3 linked regions of the Homo sapiens genome follow. The protein of the gene in region 1 purifies or fractionates together with the protein of each later gene. This does not show direct contact. Each region holds a gene or a part of one and is shown on either strand. Other genes may lie near its edges.

The links. The genes of interacting proteins can lie anywhere in the genome.
Region 2: the proteins of FA2H (region 1) and PGAP4 purify together in Homo sapiens (affinity purification with mass spectrometry; one large-scale study listed by BioGRID and IntAct). This does not show direct contact.
Region 3: the proteins of FA2H (region 1) and SEC63 purify together in Homo sapiens (affinity purification with mass spectrometry; one large-scale study listed by BioGRID and IntAct). This does not show direct contact.

What each region holds. Positions count from the first base shown.
Region 1 is NC_000016.10:74,768,318-74,771,822, forward strand, and holds part of FA2H (fatty acid 2-hydroxylase), read right to left. Parts: intron 1-3,505. UniProt on the Homo sapiens protein: Catalyzes the hydroxylation of free fatty acids at the C-2 position to produce 2-hydroxy fatty acids, which are building blocks of sphingolipids and glycosphingolipids common in neural tissue and epidermis.
Region 2 is NC_000009.12:101,484,372-101,488,376, forward strand, and holds the start of PGAP4 (GPI-N-acetylgalactosamine transferase PGAP4), read right to left. Parts: upstream 2,803-4,005; 5' UTR 2,578-2,802; intron 2,400-2,577; exon of another isoform or gene 2,197-2,399; intron 2,098-2,196; exon of another isoform or gene 1,885-2,097; intron 1-1,884. UniProt on the Homo sapiens protein: Golgi-resident glycosylphosphatidylinositol (GPI)-N-acetylgalactosamine transferase that catalyzes the N-acetyl-beta-D-galactosamine transfer from an UDP-N-acetyl-alpha-D-galactosamine to the 4-OH-position of the first mannose of the glycosylphosphatidylinositol (GPI) of a GPI-anchored protein (GPI-AP).
Region 3 is NC_000006.12:107,899,207-107,902,711, reverse strand, and holds part of SEC63 (translocation protein SEC63 homolog), read left to right. Parts: intron 1-1,194; coding exon 1,195-1,342; intron 1,343-3,505. UniProt on the Homo sapiens protein: Mediates cotranslational and post-translational transport of certain precursor polypeptides across endoplasmic reticulum (ER). Proposed to play an auxiliary role in recognition of precursors with short and apolar signal peptides.

The DNA of each region.
Region 1 (3,505 bases):
CACTCCTGGAGCTTGTGCTGACCCTGGGGTGGCCATGGAACTGCAGTGACCTGGGCCCTGGATGCCCCACCAGCTGGCCCTAGCTTCGTCCTCCAGGTGAGACTCGACTGGCACCACAGCAGGCCAGAGTGTAGAAGCCCCTGCAGGTGGTAGAGGGCAGTGACTGTTGATTGCTCAGGCAGGCTCCCCTGGGATGCCCCCTTAGAGGCCAAGTGATCTCAACCCCTCCAGTAAGTCGACTTCTCGGCTCTACTCTGCTCAGAAGGTGGCGGCAGTTCAGCAAATTCCCCAAGCATCAGTTTTTATCAGACCGGCTTTCCAAGATGGGCTGAGCTCAAGATGTTCCCGGTCCTGGGTAGGGTGGAAACTCCAAGTCTTTCTGCACTTAGATCTCCTCCTTATTGTCCCTCCCCATTTAATTATTCAAGCCCTTAAGCTCTGAATGGCCAGAGCCCAAAGTCTTACAGACCCATGTGTGGCTGAATCTGTGGACTTCTCAGCCATGCTGAGACAGACAAGCCCTGTGGAATTAAAACATGGCATCGAGACCTTCACACATCAAGGTTACCCCAACACTAGTGGCTGACGAGTCAGGCTTGCCTTCTCCCTAAAGTCTTCTCAAGCAGAGGGCATGGTCAGCTGGCATAGTCAGATATCTGCCAACGGTAGGACCTCTCCAGGATTGGTGGGGCATGGGGGAGTATGAGCCACCCTCTGGCAGTTATCATCGCTCTGGGTGGCAGGCTTGGGGCTCAGGAAAAACCCCAGTTCCATATTCACTTTATTTATTTATTGAGACGGGGTCTCCTCTGTCACTCAGGCTGCAGTGCAGTGGCATGATCACAGCTTATTGCAGGCTCAACTTCCCAGGCTCAGGTGATCCTCCCACCTCAGCCTCCCAAGTAGCTGGGACCACAGGTGCATGCCACCATGCCTGGCTAATTTTTGTAATTTTTTCTTGTAGAGATAGTTTTTCACCATGTTGCCCAGGCTGGTCTCAAACTCCTGGGCTCTAGCGACCTGCCCACCTCAGCCTCCCAAAGTGCCTGGATTACAGGCATGAGCCACCGTGCCTGGCCCCCATTCCCTTTAAAGTGCACGTAAAAGCTTTGATTTTACTGTTATTATCGCCAAGCATGAGTACATGGAAAAATAAAGTGGGTCAATTTAAAGATAAATATTACATTATGACAGTTCAAGTGGTACACCAAATTGGTAAAAGGCGAAAGACTTATACAATCTGAAGAGTAACCAGAGTATAGTACACCAAACTGGGGGGAAAAAAACCTGGGGTGGTGATTCATGGATGCCCAGAGTCTGGGAAACACAGTAATATAGCCTGGGAAGGAGGTTTAGACCTAAAGTCCTTTCCTTGTCTATTTCTTTTGTGAAAAATGCCGGTCGCAGCTCAATAAGTGGACTTCATACTCTGCTAACATGTGGCTGCAGCTGGCAGAGCACTGCTCTCGCCTGAGCTTGGGGTGAGGCTCTTGACCCCACCGCCCTGAGCTCCTTCCCTGCTCAGCCACGGCTCTGTCACTCGCTCAAGGTGGGCAGCTTGGCTTCACCATGTCCAAGGCCGTGGCAGGCAGCATGTTGGCTCAAACAAGTTGGACTTGTTTTGTGAATGTGCCTTCGTGTGAGTGTGAATGTGTGTACCTACAGAGGGTGCAGCAAAGTGGGGTGCAGGGGGAACAAACGGGTCCAGGCCTTCTCCCTGGGGGAAGGGCCAGGATGCTCCCATCCAAGGGCTAAACCAGCAGGACAGGGCCCTAGGAGGGGCACCATTCAGAAACGAGCCCCAAACAACAGAGCTGGTTCATGGCACTCCCCTTCCCCAGCAAAAGCCTCCTGCTCCTCCAGAGACAGGGGGCTCTAACCACAAGGGTGTCAGCATCCCTGGTCCAGCAGGAGAGGAGGGAAGTGCAAAAGGCAGCTTGAGGCTTGCTAGAAGGGCTTAGCTAGGGAGAAGAACAGAAATTGTCTCCAGCCAGGCATCTCTTTGAAAGGATATCCCACCCCCAGATTTCTCCTTTGACAACCTCTCCCACAAGTTTTTTGTTTGTTTGTTTGTTTTTGAGACAGGGTCTTGCTCTGTCACCCAGGCTGGAGAGTACAGTGGTGTGATCTGGCTCACTGCAACTTCCGCCTCCTGGGCTCCAGTGATCCTCTCACCTCAGCCTCCTGAGTAGCTGGGACTGCAGGCACGAGCCACCACACCCAGCTAATTTTTTGTAGAGACGGGGTTTCACCATGTTGCCCAGGCTGGTCTCGAACTCCTGGGCTCAAGTGATCCACCCACCTTGGCCTCCCAAAGTGCTGGAATTATAAGCATGAGCCACTGTGCCCAGCCTTCCTCTCTCTCAATTTAAAGACAACCCTGTACTAGTTCTTAGGTTAGAACTCTGAAGGCAGAAGCTGGCAGCCCAGTGGAGGGCTGGGCTAGTGTGACCATTGTCAAGTTTGGGCTATGCGTCTGCAGATGCATTGTTTTGAGTTTTGTTCCACATGCTCAGGTTGGGGCCCAGAAGTAAGGATGTCTGCAGCATGGCCCGCCCTCGGGCTCTTAGGCAACAGATGAGCATACAGGTCAGAAGCACATGTGAGACTGGGTCCCTGGGTCCCTCTCTAAGCATCAGACAAGGCAAACCATGGTGCTAGGTGGTTAGCAGAGCTGGGAGGTGGGACCATCCAGGGCAGCTGGCCAGGGGTGGCTGTAAGCATACTCAGGATGGTGTTGCGAGGACGAGCCACACCCTAAGGCTCCTTTCTAGAGGATACAGTGACAACACAGGGCGGGCCCATGAGCCACCGCAAACCTGTCAGTCTCAACCTCTCTTATTTCCTGCACTCAGTTTTTCTTTTCTTTTCTTTTTCCTTTTCTATTTTTTTGTGACAAAATCTTACCTGTCACCCAGACTGGAATGCAGTGGTGCGATCTCAGCTCACTGCAACTTCTGCCTCCTGGGTTCAAACGATTCTCTTACCTCAGCCTCCCGAGCAGCTGGGATTACAGGCATGCACCACCACGCCCAGCTAATTTTTGTATTTTTAGCAGAGATAAGATTTTACCGTGTTGCCCAGGCTGATGTCGAACTCCTGACCTCAAGTGATCAGCCTGCCTCAGCCTCCCAAGCAGCTGGGAGGGCACCACCACACCCAGTGCACAACCACACCCGGCTAATTTTTTGTATTTTTAGTAGGGACAGCGTTTCACCATGTTGGCCAGACTGGTCTCAAACCCCTGACCTCAAGTGATCCACCCGCCTTACCCTCCCAAATTCCTGGGATTACAGGTATGAGCCACCGTGCCTGGCCTCCTGCACTCAGTTTTTCTTATATCTTCTTCTAAACCCTTCAGCATGAGCCGACACCAAACACCAACCTCTCAGATTAAACTGGGCCCTCACCACACAATGCTGAGTCCCAGCATATTGTCTAGAGACTCTCCCGAATTCATCCCCCTTCCCCCCATGGTCACAGCCACTGCAGTGGCAGCCATGCA
Region 2 (4,005 bases), on another chromosome or scaffold:
AAAGGGTATGCTGTGGAAATGTTAAGAAGAGAAAGGTTTAAATATGTTGACATAAAAGAAATCTTAGCTAGGTTTGTGCTTTGGACTGAATGTTTGTCCTCCTCCTGCCCAGCCAAAATTCGTGTTATAAATCCTAATCTCCAATATGATGGTATTTGGAGATGGGGTCTTTGGAAGGTAATCAGGTCATAAGGGTGCAGACCTCAGTAATGCATGTTCTTTATTAGTGTCCTTATAAGAAAAGACAGGAGAGATCACTTCTCTTCTCTGCTTTCTCACATGTAAACCGGAAAGAGAGCCCTCACCAAAACTTGACCATGCTGGCACCCTGATCTGGAACTTCCAGCTTTCAGAATTTTGAGAGATAAATGTGTCTGTTGTTTAAGCCACCTAGTCTTTGAGAATGTGTTACAGCAGCTCAAGTAGACTAAGACCAGAAGGGAGAAATGCAAACTATATCAGTGCAAATTACAGAAAAATGTACAGAGATATGACCATTTTATTTTTAATGTGGAGTATAATTTAGTGAAGGAGAAAAGAAGGGTATGGGGATGGCAATTTCCTGTTTTGATATCTACACTTCTGCAAAGATCATTACTTTTATAATCATAATTAAGCATTTGATTCAACACTGAGTCTTGTGTTAGACACTGGGAAGGTGAACATGACAGTCAGGGCACCTGTTAAGTCCATTTTTAAATTTGTGATTTAAGTTGCTATAGCTATAATAAATTAAATGATGTATATATATATCTGTTTGTGGATTTTGGCATCTATCTCTCTCTGCATTGTGGTGCCAGGGCCATGTTATTTTCATTATGAAAGCTTTATAACAGGTTTTAATATCTGACTAGGCAAATTCTCTCTCATTACCCAGGATGATAATTTTCTAGGCCTTTAAAAATTAATTTTATTGAGGTGCAGTTTACATACAGTACAATGCACCACTTAAATATATATATATTTCGATGAGTTTTGTCAAATTTATACGCCCATATAACCATCAAAATAAAAAATTGACCAAAGTATCCAAAAGATCATTTGGAATTAGAACTAGTAAAAATTAACAGAAAATACTCGCTATAGTGCAACACGTGACAAAGAATTACTACTTCAATGTGTAATACACATAAAGTGTTTAAAAGTCAGGAGGAGAAAGATACTCCAACTGAAAAATGGGCAGAAGAATTAACAATCAACTCACCTACAGAAATGCAAAAGGCTACTACACAGAGGAAAAAGTGTTAATTCCCATGGGTAATCAAAGACATGCAAATTAAGACAAGATACCATTTTTTGGTCCACGCTTTTGATTTAAAACTTCAAATGTGTATACATAGAGAAAATTTTAAGATATGCAGAAAATCTAAACCATCTAGAAGTTGAAGTTTTAAGTTATTTTTATTTTGCTTCTCCTTTGGATTTTTGTTTACTGGATGTTTTCTAATATGTGTATCCTTACAACATTCTAATAATTCTAATAATGTTGATTTTCTCTTCTCACCTCATAAAGTACCTAGTGCAGTGCATTCTAGAAATTCACCCCTAAAAAAAAAAGCTATTTCCCCTATAGAAGGAGAAACACACACATGCACGCGCACACACACCCGCATGTGTTGCTAATGGTCCGCATGGTGAGATCATCATTGGAGCCGCCCTGCGGTCCCCCGGAGAGAGCCTGGGCCGAGCAGAGGATGCGGGTCACAACGACCCTGCAGGAGCTCACGCCCCAAGACACCGCGAGCGCAGTGCGACACTAGCGACGCCGGAGCCAAGGGCCAGAAAGAGGGCGAGACACACCCAGGTGGATCTAATTAACCCTCCCTCTTGGAAAAAGAATGGGGGACGATGTCCAGGGCCCTGGATCTAGTGTCTGTCGCTGACCTTGGGCAGTCCCTGCCACGCTTGAGCCTCAGTTTCCCACCCGTAGGCCGAGCTGACCGTCTCCATCGCTGCGCTCCTTCCCTTCTGCTGGTTTTTCCTGGTCCTGGGAGGGACGCCTTCCTCTGCCCAGTCGCCCTCCCCCAGCCCTTGGCTGCGAGGTCGCCCGCAGAAACCCAACACTGCTGCCGCGCTCTCGGCGCGCCCGGCGAACCTAAGGTGTGGACGCGCCGCGAGGGTCCCCTGCTTGCGGGCGGCCATTAGGCGCCAGGCCCCTTGGCGCTTCGGCCCTGCTAGGCTCGGCGAGGGTCTTACCCAGACTGGCACGCGCCCCGCTCGCGTCCTTCTATTGACCTGTCAGCGCAGCTGGCGCAGGCAAGGGCCAGGGAGGCGCCCCCGAGACACTCAACCATCCCCGCACTGATGCGGGCCCCTGCTGCCCTGGGGACCCCTGCGGGGTCCTCGCAATCCTCCGGCAGGAAGCGGTCGGAGCTGCGGGCAGGGCCGCTAGGCAACCCGCCTGCCCGAGGCGCACTGCCCGGGGCACAGGCCCTCTGCGATGACTCTCCCCAACCCCCAGCTGCCCTGCTTGTGCCAGCTGTGGCCACCCCTAATCCTTGTCCCCTCGCTCTAGTGTCCAGGGCTCCGACCACCGCGCCAGAAGGGCTGGGCAGATCGTGCGCAACAGAAACCTACCCGGTTGGGGCGACCAGCTCGGTCCCCTGCGCGCGCCGAGGGCCGCCTCTGGTATTGCCCAGGCTGGCTAGCTCATCCCGGTGGAGGCGCCATCTCCGGGGCCCGGAAGGAGCGGGCGCAGCGCGGTTTGGGTGTGCGCCGGAGCCTCACCTCCTCCCGCCTCGCAGCTCAGGCGCAGGGCTCCCCTTGCTCAGGCGGGCCATGTGACCCGCGAGCTGCGGAGAGACCGCGGCCCCCAAAGCGGCTTGGGGAAAAAGGACGGCAAAAGGCGCCAACTGATGGGCAGCCAGGGAAAAGCAGGAGTCGCCCCCAAGTCACGCAAACAGGAAGCCTGTTTCTTTTGTGAGGGGACTAGAAGCCAGCATTATATTTCATCAGGTGTGTACATAGAGACTTATTCACACCAATGGAACGATATCTCTCAATGCGTGTAAACGCTTCATGAGAAAGCTGTTACTTTGGGTCTTGAATGTTTTTCAGTCTTCCCCAAACCCTCAATTTAAACACAAACGGCCACGAGAGACATAACGCCTGAGGTATGAGAAAGTATGCACATTGATTGAGAACAATCCCGGCAAAGCAAATAGGAAAAAGATACGGAATGATCCGAGGGAGGAAAAATGTGGGGGTCAAAAGAAAAGTAACAGCCTCCTACATTCCACCTTGGACTTTCCCTTCTGAATGGGTTTTCAGCACACAATTGTACGGCCTTACTCAGTGCTTCTAATCCTAGGTTTGCCTGTCTAGGCCACAGGTTAGCAACTACAGTTTGCTGCCTGTTCTTGTACAGCCCACAAGCTAAGAATGTTTTTTGCAATATTTCATGGTTAAAAATGGAAGAATATTTCAGGGCTACGAAAATTATATGAATTCAAAATTTGATGATCGTAAACAAAGTTTTACTGCAACATAGTCATCATTTACATATTGTCTATGGCTGCTACCATGAAAGAACAGCAGAGTTGGATAGTTGTGACAGAGACCTTATGACCCACAAAACCTAAAATATTTACTGCCTGATTTGCCAACACCTGCTCTAAAAGGTCTGTTCAGTGGTCACAAGATAAAGCATTAAAGCCAGTAAATGCTCATATGATTTCTTCTTGTGTAAGTAAAATTGATACTAGATATTAACTTCCTTTAGAACCTTACAAACACCCACCTGAGCCCCCATTCATCATCTACTCTTTCAGCCAGCATTTACTGAAGAATGGTTCTGACATACTGCCATCACTATAGATGACAATGAAGTAAGAATGAGGTGTGGATCCTTCACTCAAGGAATTTGTCATTAGGAATGCTGGAAAACCTATATCTGAGGCTGGAAAGTATGAGAGCTGGATATAGCACAGAAAGGGAGCTTGGGAAGGTAGTTTCATTTCCTGGGAGAAAAAATGGGAGTCTGATATTCCGAAATTGGAGGATTGT
Region 3 (3,505 bases), on another chromosome or scaffold:
TTCTCTCAGGTGGTTCTGTTAACATTTTCTTGACTAGGTAGCTGTGTTTTATAGTATTTTACTACTGTAAGTAGTTTTATTATTTTGGGGGTTGTTGCATTTAAAAAGTCAACAGTTAGTTCCTTATATTATGTTACCAAAAATAAATGTACTGTCTACTTTACAGTCATTTTATTCTTGGCTTAAGGTTGGGCAATTGTTTACTGGTTAAGCATGAACAACAAAAACATTTAATAAATCAAATAAAGACAGTTCTTATTTAGAATATATAATCTATAGTATAAACATGATAATGAATCTTAAGATATAACAAAAATTTGTGTAAATGAAAAACTTGAGGAAATATAAGAAACTGAAGTTACAATTCTAGTAGGAGATTTTAAACATTATTTTGTATATGATAGATAAAACTAGCAGAGAATAGACATTGGATTTGATAGTATATTAATGTAGAATTAATAAATGCATGTTGGAAATTAGTATCAGAGTTCTCTGTCCTTTTAAGTACTCATGTTCCCCTTATAAATTTGATTGTATGTTAAGTCATAATTAAAAACTTCAGAATCTAAAAGCAGAGATTTTACATGCCTCATGATCTAATCTGTGTCTTTGAAAGTGAAAAATAACTAGCACCAAACACCTGGAAAATTAAAGAACACGCTCCTAAGTAACCATTTTGCCAAGATGGATATTACTGTAGTAATAGCTATATTTTAAGAATAACAAAAATGAGAATATTGCATAGTAAAACTTTGAAGGTGCGTCTTTATTGAGGTTTATTTTTACTTTTATTAGGTAAAAGTAAACGTTTATTATTAAAGGTTTGTTAATAGTAAACCTATTAATTGCTAATTAAAGGTTTTTGTTATTAAAATTGAAAATAAACTGAGGACATCAATTGACAAAGTTCTTGGTTGAGTCAAGATTCTTATTTTTTCCCTCCAACTTTGTTTTTTCTAATTTAAAAAAATAAGCCTGTATTAACTTTATAATTTAAAAATTCTTAATTTAAATTTTCTTGGAGAAAAAGGTCATGAAATGCCATATCGTTATTTTGTACTTTGAAATGCACATTAATCAACACTTTTCTAAAAGTTGCTGGATTTTGTTGTGGTTAACATGTGAGTAATTTTCTTTTTATGAAAAGCTTTGTGAGTTAGGGAATTATGTATTTTCTTTTTTTTTTTTATTCAGTATAAAATTAAAACTATCCAGGATTTGGTGAGTTTAAAAGAATCAGATCGTCACACTCTACTGCACTTCCTTGAAGATGAAAAATATGAAGAGGTTATGGCTGTCCTTGGGAGTTTTCCATATGTGACCATGGATATAAAATCACAGGGTAAGTGGGAGGTTTCTCTGTTGAGCATTGCTTCCCTTTTGATAGATTGGTTCTCATTTATTTGACTCAGGATTCTCAAAACACTGTACTTAATAACATAACTTGTTATTAGACTTTGCAGAACTGTAGTTTACCTGTCAGATTTACTATGTTGGAAAATGATTTATACCTAATAGTTTGAGAACACTGATAGAGTCCTACTTTTATTATCCTCATAATGGGATGAAGTCTGAACACTCTGTTCTGTAGTTCAACTTTTAGCAATTTCTTAACTTTCCAAAGAATGATGAAGACTTCCAGGCATAATAAAAGAATGAGATATTTGAAGTATATTATTAGTATGAAAGAAATAGCTGCCTAGTTCTAAAATTAAATTTTTAAAACCCAACTTATTTATGTTAATTAAATGTTGAAAATTACTGTGTTTTATGCCACATTTCATGTGTTTTTCTTGCCCTACCTCTATATTTTCTTTGAGGGAAAAAAATAAAGGCTATTTTTCTACCTATATAATTGCTCTGTGTTTCTATTTCAATATCTGAATGGTCTTAGAATACTGAGAGAATTAGAGACTATCTGCTCCATTCTTTCATTGTGGTGGTGGTCTGAGCTTTAACATTTGCTAAGTTACTATTATGAGAACATTCTTTTAGTTACCAAGAATACAGGGATATATTAATAATGGTTTCTGTCTTTATTTTATTTATTTATAAATAATTTTTGAGACAGGGTCTCACTCTGTCGTCCAGGCTGGAGTGCAGTGGTGCGATTTTGGCTCACTGCGTCCTCTGCCTCCCGGGCTCAAGCAATCCTTCTACCTCAGCCTCCTGAGTAGCTGGGACTACAGGTGCACACTACCATACCTGGCTAATTTTATTTTTTGTAATTTTAGTAGAGACAGCGTTTCACCATGTTGCCCAGGCTGGTCACGAGCTTCTGGGCTCAACTGCTCCACCTGCCTTGGCCTCCCGCAGTGCTGTGATTATAGGTGTGAGCCACCGTGCCTGGTTTGTGTCTTTAAAGAGAGCTTATTGTCTAGTTGAAGCAATAGGCTTAAAAATAAGATAAGGGCTGGGCCCAGTGGTGTCATGCCTTTAATCCCAACACTTTGGGAGGCCAAGGCAGGGGGATCACTTGAACCCAGGAGTTCGAGACCAGCCTGGGCAACATAGTGAGACCCTGTCTTTATAAAATTAAAAAAAAAACACACACACACCAAGATAACATATGCTAAGTGTTAACGTGAATGACACAGACATTGTACCATTTATTTATACAGCAAATATTGAATGCTGTGCACTCCTCTAGGTGCTAGGGAAGCAGTGGTAAGACATACCCTCTGCTTATTGAGCTTGTATTCTAATAGGAATTCTAATTGGGAAAGGAAGGCAAACAGTGCAATCTGGTTTCAGTTTGGCTGGAGTGTAGCATATGTGTTGTGAAAACTTGGTTTGCTTTGGTGAGGAGTTGGGGTTGCCTTGTGGGGCCATGAGTTTTCAGACTTTAAAAATACTAATTTAAAAGCTGTATTTAGGACTGTGCTGATTTAATAAAACTGTCCAAATAAAAATTTTGGGACTTAGAGATACTTTGTGATATTAAGAACTGTTAAAAGTATACCCTTTTCTTTTCTTTTCTTTTCTTTTTTTTTTTGAGACAGTCTTGCTCTGTTGCCCAGGCTGAAGTGCAGTGGCACTATCTGGGCTTACTGCAACCTCCAACTCTAGGTTCAAGTGATTCTCCTGCCTCAGCCCTCCCAAGTAGCTGGGATTACAGGCGTGTGCCACCACCATGCCCAGCTAATTTTTGTATTTTTAGTAGAGACGGAGTTTCACCATGTTGGCCAGGCTGGTCTCGAACTCCCAGCCTCAGGTGATTCACCCACCTCAGCCTCCCAGAGTGCTGGGATTATAGGCGTGAGCCACCATGCCTGGCCAAAAGTACATGCTTCTTAGAAAAATGAATATTAGAAGAGATTTTCTTATAGAAAGTAGAAATTTAAGAGTGTTCGGCCTCACTGACAAATATTACCATGGATCCACTCCATAGCATCTTGGATAGACAGTTTATTTATATTTTTACAGTGCTGCCTAATTATGTAATAATAGTGCTATAGTTGGTGAAGGAGGAGTAGAAGAAATATAGAAGCAGGAAAGGGGCATC